2 separate regions of the Homo sapiens genome follow, and region 1 is linked to region 2. Evidence: fine-mapped expression QTL. A gene starts in region 2. The other region holds a variant in brackets. All regions are shown on one strand. Distances are from middle to middle.

Region 1 (5,000 bases), 69 kb before region 2:
GGTGACAGAGAGCATGGGGAGCAGAGGAGGTCAACTGAGCCACCAGAAGCTGGAGTGAGAACTCCACTTCCCTGCAGAGGTGGGGTGGGGGTGATGGTGCATGGAGCCTTGAATTAACCTTTCCATACCCACTTACAATTGAGGAGAGAGGGGAGGTGGGAGCTAGAGCAGCACTTTTCTCTCTCTCCTCACCCAGGGGAAAAGCTTGTTGGAGGAAAGTGATTTCATCAGCTTTGATTTATGCCATCTAATAAGATCCTTCCCCTCACTGTCAGCCTCTCAATAGATCAAAGGTGGGATATTAAAACGAAGGCAATTCCAACTGGTTCTCCTGGCTATGCTAATGCCTCAACTCTCCTTTCCTTCCATCTGTCAGGAGCATTGATGGGTGTGCAAGAACCCCTGGGGTGGTGGCGGGGGCGGGCAGAGAAAGTGCTTCCTTTGTATACATCAAAGGATGATACCTGAGCATTCCTCCAAGCTATTCCTTGTATTTTATTCAGCAGCAATATATAAAAATAATTACCCACCCTCCAGGAGGGAGACAGGGAAGTGCCTCTGTGTGTAGCCTTTAGGAGCTTCCCCCAAAGACACAGACCTACAGATCTGGGCAGAAGGCCACCTTTGTGGGTGACAATCCCGGAATCCTGGGGTGGGAACTACAAAAAGCCATCTCATCCATCCCCCAGCCTCCAGCCATTGAATTGCAGACATCAGGCTGGTTTCTGGCGACCTTCGTGGGCTGTCTGAGATGTGCTTGGGAGCCGGGTCCTGTGGTTGCTTGAGGCCTGGCTGCCTGCCCTGGCAAAGGGTGGCTGTGGTTGGTAGAGGAAGAGGCCGATGGAGATCTTCCCGACTTGCTTCTCCAGAAAGGGGGCAGTGATGTCAGAGGCTTAGGGAATAGAAGTGATATCCCAGAGTTTTAAAGATACTTAAAAGCTGTCCTAGCAGACTTTGTAGTAATAGGCACCAGGGAAAATTCAGGCACATATTAACACTTCTAAAAGTACCATAGGAGAAGGGAGAGAAGAAATGGGAAAAGTCCATATCAACCATGGCTTCCCACAGGGTTCCAGTCCTTCCCACAATCTATTTTCTCCCTCATTCCCAAGAGCTCCCAGGCTCTCTGTGACCAGTATGAGAACTGGAGAGGTTATACCTGTATAGTTTCAACCCTCCCCTCCCCAGCCTCCCTATTTCCTGGCCCCACATCCCTCCATCCATCAATTTCTCCATTCATCCATCCGTCCATCCACTCACACAGACTACACAATCATCCCCACGGTTGGAATCTTGTTTTTCTCTTGCTCAGAATTATCTATGGCTTCTAGTCAACCCCAAACTCTTTGGCTTGGGCTTCAAGATCCCTTCCCTGAAATGACTGTCTTACCAGCATAATTTCTCAGAAGATCTCCCCCAGTTCTCTATTTCATATGCAAATGTGCCTCTTGCCTTACCTCTTTGTCCCACAGTACATAGTTTATTCATCTTTGGATCTTTGTATAGGTTGATGCCCCTCTTTGAAAGATGTTTCTCCATCCTCTCTTCAAAGCTCTGCTTAAAACTCCTCTTTCTAGAGCCTTCTGACCTAACCTCACATGGTGCTGTTCCCTCCTATACTCAGCATCTTCCAAGTCCTTACTGATTGGTCCACAAGTACCCACCACACCCACACCCCCGTGCTGAAGCCATAATCCCTCTCCTCTAGCCTAGGGAGGAAATGAAGGAACAAATCAAACACACTCAAGTTGTTTCCAGTTAAAATGGAGGAAAACTTAGCTACCTTCTCACTAAAACACCTATGAAGATATATAGAGAAAAAACAAACAAACAAAAAGATGTATGCTGGCCGGGCGCGGTGGCTCATGTGGGTAATCCCAGCATTTTGGGAGGCTGAGGCAGGAGGATCACCTGAGGTCAGGAGTTCGAGACCAGCCTGGCCAACATGGTGAAACCCCCGTCTCTACTAAAAATACAAAATTTAGCTGGGCATTGGGGTATGAGCCTGTAGTCCCAGCTACTCAGCAGGCTGAGGCAGGAGAATTGCTTGAACCCGGGAGGCGGAGGTTGCAGTGCGCCAAGATCGTACAACTGCACTCCAGCCTGGGCAACAGAGTGAGACCCTGTCTCAGAAAAGAAAAAAAGATGATCATAACTCTGAAAATAATTTATTGAGGGTGTAGTAGAAGTTATTTGACACCCTCAGTAAGGTACAAGAAATCATGACCTCTCTGAAACAGGAACAAAAATCCATGAAAAGAAAAAAAGCTAAGACAGAAGAACAACAGCATAAAATAAAATAAAATAAAATAAAATAAAATAAAATAAAATAAAAGGCAAGTTTCAAAGACAAATTGAAGTGTAAATGGAACTAGGTGAGATATGGGAAGACTGCAGGGGAAGTAAATTAAAAAAGCAAAATTCAAATTTGCATTGTAGGTGATAATGAGTAGACCTGGCCCAGCAAAAAACTGAATTAGCAATGGGGAGAATAAACATGAGACACTCTCCTTGAAGTCAGAATAAAAGGACAAAGGGGCGAAGATTATGGAAATAAATATGAGATAGATAGAAACGAGAACTGAATTTGAATTTGAGAA[T/C]CATAGGTATTCCAGAGGATTAAACCCAGAGTGAATGGAGCAGAAGCACATGATAGCTGTAACTGAAAGAAAACATTACATACGGAACCAAAAAAGAGCCCGCATTGCCAAGTCAATCCTAAGCCAAAAGAACAAAGCTGGAGGCATCATGCTACCTGACTTCAAACTATACTACAAGGCTACAGTAACCAAAACAGCATGGTACTGGTACCAAAACAGAGATATAGATCAATGGAACAGAACAGAGCCCTCAGAAATAATGCCACATATCTACAACTATCTGATCTTTGACAAACCTGAGAAAAACAAGCAATGGGGAAAGGATTCTCTATTTAATAAATGATGCTGGGAAAACATATGGGCTAGCCATATGTAGAAAGCTGAAACTGGATCCCTTCCTTACACCTTATACAAAAATTAATTCAAGATGGATTAAAGACTTAAATGTTAGACCTAAAACCATAAAAACCCTAGAAGAAAACCTAGGCATTACCATTCAGGACATAGGCATGGGCAAGGACTTCATGTCTAAAACACCAAAAGCAATGGCAACAAAAGCCAAAATTGACAAACGGGATCTAATTAAACTAAAGAGCTTCTGCACAGCAAAAGAAACTACCATCAGAGTGAACAGGCAACCTACATAATGGGAGAAAATTTTCGCAACCTACTCACCTGACAAAGGGCTAATATCCAGAATTTACAATGAACTCAAACAAATTTACAAGAAAAAAACAAACAACCCCATCAAAAAGTAGGCAAAGGATATGAACAGACACTTCTCAAAAGAAGACATTTATGCAGCCAAAAGACACATGAAAAAATGCTCATCATCACTGGCCATCAGAGAAATGCAAATCAAAACCACAATGAGATACTATCTCACACCAGTTAGAATGGCAATCATTAAAAAGTCAGGAAACAACAGGTGTTGGAGAGGATGTGGAGAAAGAGGAATACTTTTACACTGTTGGTGGGACTGTAAACTAGTTCAACCATTGTGGAAGTCAGTGTGGTGATTCCTCAGGGATCTAGAACTAGAAATACCATTTGACCCAGCCATCCCGTTACTGGGTATATACCCAAAGGACTATAAATCATGCTGTTATAAAGACACATGCACACGTATGTTTATTGCGGCACTATTCACAATAGCACAGACTTGGAACCAACCCAAATGTCCAACAATGATAGACTGGATTAAGAAAATGTGGCACATACACGCCATGGAATACTATGCAGCCATAAAAAATGATGAGTTCATGTCCTTTGTAGGGACATGGATGAAATTGGAAATCATCATTCTCAGTAAACTATCACAAGGACAAAAAACCAAACACCACATGTTCTTACTCATGGATGGGAATTGAACACTGAGAACACATGGACACAGGAAGGGGAACATCACACTCTGGGGACTGTTGTGGGGTGGGGGGAGGGGGGAGAGTTAGCATTAGGAGATATACCTAATGCTAAATGACAAGTTAATGGGTGTAGCACACCAGCATGGCACATGTATACATATGTAACTAAGCTGCACATTGTGCACATGTACCCTAAAACTTAAAGTATAATAATAATAATAATAATAAAAAGAAAACATTAGAGCTGAAAGAATAGTGTAGATTTAAGATGTTTATTGTATCCCAAGCAAACTAAGTGGAAAGAATACCTCAACACATTCTGGCAAACATTTCAGTTGTAAGGATAAAGAAAAAAAATCTTGTAAGCATTCATAAAGAAAAAATATGCTCTCCTTGAAAGAATAAAATGATAAGGCTGACCTCAGAATTTCCTGGCACACTGCATGTCAGGGGGAAATGGAGCCTTATCTACAGGATTCTGAGAAAAATAGATTGTGATCCAATAATTTTATATTGGCCACAAAAAAATATATTAGTTAGTTGGCCACAAAAAAATATATTCTCAACTATATAAAAGATCAGAAATACAGTTGCCATCTGTTGTTCTTGGGGGAAAAACTACTTGAAAATATACTACAGGCAATCAAGAGAGATAATTTTTAAATGAAGAACTCAAGAATGGGGAATTTGGCAGAGCACGGTGGCTCATTCCCGACACTTTGGGAAGCCAAGACAGGCGGATGTCAGGAGTTCGAGACCAGCCTGGCCAACATGGTGAAACCCTTTCTCTACTAAAAATACAAAAATTAGCTGGGCATGGAGACACATGCCTGTAGTCCTAGCTACTTGGGAGGCTGAGGCAGGAAAATCACTTGAGCCCGGGAGGCAGAGGCTGCAGGGAGCCAAGATTGTGCCACTGCACTACAGCCTGGGCGACAGAGCGAGACTCTGTCTGAAAAAATAAAATAGTCCAGGAGCGGTGGCTCACACCTGTAATCCTAACACTTTGGTAGGCTGAGACGGGCGGATCACCTGA
Region 2 (5,472 bases):
TGGACATCTCCTAACATCGCTGAAAAGAGAAAGGAGCCCCAAGACTTCCCCACCCTGGCTCTTCTGCATGCCAGCTCTCAACCCCACCTTCAGGTGCCTTTCTGGTAGAGCTGTTCTCCAGAGAGGGCAAAGAAAGAAAATTCCTCCTCTGAGACACCCTCAGGACAACTGTAGGAATCCTTCATGCACCATCCAGATGGGACCCCTCCCCAGCCCAGGGCAGGGGACACGGTCCTCTGCCACCTCCTTCCAATATTCCAGACCCCACTGCTAAATTCCCCATATTGCCTCAGGACCCATCATACTCTTTATAGCTCCCACTCCCTCTCTTCTCTCCACAACTCTCAGAAGCATCCCCTGAGTCTTGAGAGAGAGGGGCTTTCTCAATCCCCAGGAAGACACAGACCAGCTCAGAAAACCCCACCTCCACTGAACCCAAATGCAGACTTCACAGCTCCGAGGGAATTGTGGCAAGCTAGTGGGAAAAACTTCTGCCAGCATGGATGGTAGGATGCTTGAATTCCAAAGGTGACAGTGTACCTCCTTCCCCAAGTCCTTCTAGAAAAAGGGTCATTAACCAGTCTAGGAAGACTTAATGCTGGGAAAGGAAGCTCTGGAAGGCCTTATCTCCCCTGCCCCTTCAACCCAGGCAAGGGACCTTCCTTCAGCTCACCCAGAGAAAGGCTCCACAGAAGTCACATCTAAACTCTTTAGCCACAGGACCCTGTCTTCAAATGAACCAATGTCACATACTCCCAGGATAGAAAACTGCTGAAAGAGGGGCTGGCCTGTGTGTAGGGTGGGGCCGGAGCCTGCCCTGCTTTGCCAGATGCTGAGCGCCCAGGCTCTGTGCAGTTGGTACCTTTATTCCCATGATTGCCTCTGCCGTCACCTACTGCACTGTGAAGGATTCCATTTGTCCTTCTAGATGGACATTATTTTTCTCTTCCCACTCCCTTACCTGGCCCACAGCCTGTGCCTTTTGGAGTGGAGGGGGACATCCCAACCTGGGGACAGGGACATTTGGAGAGGAGCCCCATGAAGAGTTGCCCTCTGGGACCCTCTACCTCCCACCAGGACACTCCCAACACTGAGCATCTTTAGTTCCACAAATTCTTGCTAGGCCCCTATAAAGATTCACCCAGCCTCCTCTTCCTCTAAGCTCCCATGTGCTGGAACCCCAAAGCCATAAGGAGCCTCTCTCAGGCCAGAAGGAACTCTGGGATCCTAGCCCTCAGCAGAAGGCCCCACCAGGCTTTCCCACCTGCTCCCAGCTCCTCTGAGGAAGTTGATAGAGCCTGCAGAGCTGGGCTGGAGGAGGTTTCCTTGCCCCAGAGCGGGGCTGGGGGTGCAGGTGGGTGGCCTGGAATGTGCTCTCTCACCCTCCTCCTGCCCAGGTGGTGAGCAGCCAGAGCCCCCAGCCCTCCAGCTCTGAGGGGAAGCTCCCATGAGCCAGACAGACAGGACAGCTGCCCCCAGTAGGGTCCCCTTCACGCGCCATCTCACCCCAACTCAGACGCTAAAAATGGTTCTCTGGTTTTCAGCCTCGGCGCCTGCCCACAAATTAGTGTCTCCAACACAGCCTCTTGGGACATGACTTTAGGGAGGCCCCTGGGGGAGCCAGGAGGCCCCAGTGAAGGGAGATGGTGCTGGCAGAGTCCCTTTCTGAGGAGACAAGAGTGGATAAGGCCCCCCTCCCAGCTTCTAGGAAACCCGCCCCCCCCGCCCCCACGAAGGCCACCCAGCCTCAGTGTGACAGCCCTGTTGTCCTCACCATGGCAGAAGAACAGACATTATTTCCACCCTACTGGGGCACGCTCCCCTCACCTCCACCTCCAGTTCTGTCAGCTTTACCCTCAGCCACCATCCCGGGCACTGCTCTGCTAGAAGAGAATGCAGCAACAGGAGATGGAGCAGCCAGCCCCGCGCCCTCCCGCTCAGGGTCCAGAACCCACCTCGCCAAGCCTGGGCTCCCATAGTCAGCCCACAAGCACGGAGGCCAATGGGGAAGCCAAGTCAGGGAAGCCCGGTCTCCCTGCTCGCCTGGTATTTAGTCTCAGACTCTTCTCCCCTCCCCAGTCCCGCAACGGTCAACTTGGAAGGGGGCAAACCCTCTCCGGGATGCCCATGCCCCAGGGCACCAAGCAAGCAGGTGCCCTGCTGAGGCCGGGACTGGGCGCTAGCCAGCAGCCCGCAGGACCAGGCGGGGACAGGCGGGCAGTACTCACAGGTAAGCCGTCAGGGGGTCCAGGTCCCCCGGAACGGCGGACAGCCCGAGCTCAGAGCAGTCGGCAGACAGCATGATGCCGTCCTCCTGGCAGTGGCAGGGGGCCGGGCAGGCGGTGGGCCCCGGGCCGGGCTGGGGGGCGCCGCCGGCCCTCCGGGAAGCGCACAGCGCGGCGCAAAGCCATAGCGCCCGGAGCCCCGGCGGGCTGGGCATCTCGGCGGTCGGGCTACTGGGGCACCTGGCGGCCGGGCGCGGACGCACGGCGCGATGGCCGCAGCTGCTTCCTCCCGGTCCCGGCGGGCTGCACCGTCGGTGGGGACCGCCCCAGGGGCTCTATTGGGCGGCGGCGGCGGCGGTGGGAGCGCCGGGACGGTGCAGTCAGAGAGGGGCAGGCATTGTTGAGTGATCTTCGTTATTCAGTTTCACAGGCTGGGCTTGGCAAGGGAGGGAGACCCAGCCGGAGGAGGAGTCAAGGAAACTTTCTACACTGCGGCTCGCTCCTCTTCCCTCCTTCCTTCGGAGCTGGCAGGAATTTCATCCAGGAAAGAAAAAAAAAAAAGGAAGAAAGCAAAGAAACCCAAGCGAGCAAAGCTCAGCCCGTCAGAGACCTGCATTTGTTTGGATAGGGTGTCCCAGGGCCTTGGCCGCAGGGCTGGGGACCCTCTTGCCTTTGGGGACAGCCACGAGGTCACATGGGACCCAGAGGAGGTCTCTGAAAGAGGCCTTGGGGCTCCCATTGCCCCTCATGCCTCCACCACGTTTCACACTGCAGGAAACTGAGACCCAAGAGGCAAAATGATTTGTTCAAGGTGACACAGCTGATGGGACATCCCCAGAGCTGGAACTCGTCCACCCTCCCTGGCCTGTCTGCTAGGACAGGAGAGAGGGGAGTGAGGGGCTACCCTGGAAGAGGCCAGGCTGCGGAGGGTTCCACTGCAGGCTGGGATGACCCGACGGTGGGCAACCAGGAGCAGTCTCCTCACTGAGAGGCCGGGCCTTGACTCCAAAGAAACGGGTGTGGAGTTACACCCGCTGAGTGCACCCTGGGTGGAAATGCACTCCTGCAGCCTCTGTCAGGTTTACGGCCTGGGGACCACCTTGATCCCTGCTCCCAGGACCTCGGGAGTCTGAGGGACTGTGGGCAGCTCAGCTGGTTGTCAGAGCCCACCTCAAAGTAAGCGGATTGGTGCCACCTGGAGGCCGGGTGCTGCACCTGCAGCTCAGCCACCCTGAGGCTGGAATCCCACCAAGTGGCTGACCTGGGCCGGCCCCAGAGCCCTGGAGAGCAAAGGGCATGGTGGTTAAAACTGAGGTCAATCCCTGTTCTCTCCTTAGACCATAGTGAGCTGGCTGTGCTTCCTTCATGCAGCCTCTTGCTCTCTCTGGTCTCTCCCATGCTGAGCCAAGCCCCCGCGCAGAGCTAGAGCAGGCTGTGGGCCCCCCTCCTTCCTTTTTTTGCCCTATCTCCCCATGGTCCAGCCAGAGGGTATACTAGAAACCTGGGACCTCAGAGGCATCCAGGATTTCTTCCACCCTGTCTTTCCACATGCCAGGATCCTCTCATCAACACCTCTCCACTCTCCCAATAACCTCCCAGGGCTAGAGGGGCTGCATAGCTGGACCAAGAAATGAGCAGACCTTGACCCTAGGCCTCCAGTTGGTGCCATGGCGCTGAAAGTAGAAGACGAGCCTCCGCTCTCGCTCTCCCTCTCCCTCTCCCCTCTTTCCACGGTCTCCCTCTGATGCCGAGCCGAAGCTGGACTGTACTGCTGCCATCTCGGCTCACTGCAACCTCCCTGCCTGATTCTCCTGCCTCAGCCTGCCGAGTGCCTGCAATTGCAGGCGCATGCCGCCACGCCTGACTGGTTTTCGTATTTTTTGGGTGGAGACGGGGTTTCGCTGTGTTGGCCAGGCTGGTCTCCAGCTCCTAACTGCGAGTGATCCGCCAGCCTCGGCCTCCCGAGGTGCCGGGATTGCAGACGGAGTCTCCTTCACTCAGTGCTCAATGGTGCCCAGGCTGGAGTGCAGTGGCGTGATCTCGGCTCGCTACAACATCCACCTCCCAGCAGCCTGCCTTGGCCTCCCAAAGTGCCGAGATTGCAGCCTCTGCCCGGCCGCCACCCCGTCTGGGAAGTGAGGAGCGTCTCTGCCTGGCCGCCCATCGTCTGGGATGTGAGGAGCCCCTCTGCCTGGCTGCCCAGTCTGGAAAGTGAGGAGCGTCTCTGCCCAGCCGCCATCCCATCTAGGAAGTGAGGAGCACCTCTTCCCGGCCGCCATCCCATCTAGGAAGTGAGGAGCGTCTCTGCCCGGCTGCCCATCGTCTGAGATGTGGGGAGCGCCTCTGCCCTGTCGCCCCGTCCGGGATGTGAAGAGCGTCTCTCCCCGGCCGCCCCGTCTGAGAAGTGAGGAGACCCTCTGCCTGGCAACCGCCCTGTCTGAGAAGTGAGGAGCCCCTCCGCCCAGCAGCCGCCCCGTCTGAGAAGTGAGGAGCCCCTCCGCCCGGCAGCCACCCCGTCTGGGAAGTGAGGAGCGTCTCCGCCCGGCAGCCACCCCGTCCGGGAGGGAGATGGGGGGGTCAGCTCCCCGCCTGGCCAGCCGCCCCGTCCGGAAGGGAGGTGGGGGAATCAGCCCCCCGCCCGGCCAGCCGCTCGGGAGGTGAGGGGCGCCTCTGCCCGGCCGCCCCTACTGGGAAGTGAGGAGCCCCTCTGCCCGGCCAGCCGCCCCATCCGGGAGGGAGGTGGGGGGGTCAGCCCCCCGCCTGGCCAGCCGCCCCGTCCGGGAGGTGAGGGGCGCCTCTGCCCGGCCGCCCCTACTGGAAAGTGAGGAGCCCCTCTGCCCGGCCAGCCGCCCCGTCCGGGAGGTGTGCCCAACAGCTCATTGAGAACGGGCCAGGATGACAATGGCGGCTATGTGGAATAGAAAGGCGGGAAAGGTGGGGAAAAGATTGAGAAATCGGATGGTTGCCGTGTCTGTGTAGAAAGAGGTAGACATGGGAGACTTTTCATTTTGTTCTGTACTAAGAAAAATTCTTCTGCCTTGGGATCCTGTTGATCTGTGACCTTACCCCCAACCCTGTGCTCTCTGAAACATGTGCTGTGTCCACTCAGGGTTAAATGGATTAAGGGCGGTGCAAGATGTGCTTTGTTAAACAGAGGCTTGAAGGCAGCATGCTCGTTAAGAGTCATCACCACTCCCTAATCTCAAGTACCCAGGGACACAAACACTGCGGAAGGCCGCAGGGTCCT

The links. PIP is the estimated chance that this variant, and not a neighbour inherited with it, causes the effect.
Region 1: its variant is the best candidate, but not a certain one, in a credible set for the expression of LGR6 in whole blood (INTERVAL, PIP 0.60).

The regions. Positions count from the first base shown.
Region 1 is chr1:202,260,271-202,265,270 of GRCh38, reverse strand. The region is part of intron 4 of LGR6 (leucine rich repeat containing G protein-coupled receptor 6); the gene reads right to left. Among named protein-coding and RNA genes, the nearest start is that of LGR6, 69 kb to the right of the region's middle. RefSeq lists an enhancer at 751-1,251. The variant T/C (reference allele first, on the strand shown) is at 2,601.
Region 2 is chr1:202,190,958-202,196,429 of GRCh38, reverse strand. It overlaps LGR6 (leucine rich repeat containing G protein-coupled receptor 6), which reads right to left and starts at 2,631. Exons shown (of 18, transcript NM_001017403.2): 1 at 2,229-2,631. The coding sequence starts at 2,440. RefSeq lists enhancers at 3,498-3,547, 3,242-4,045.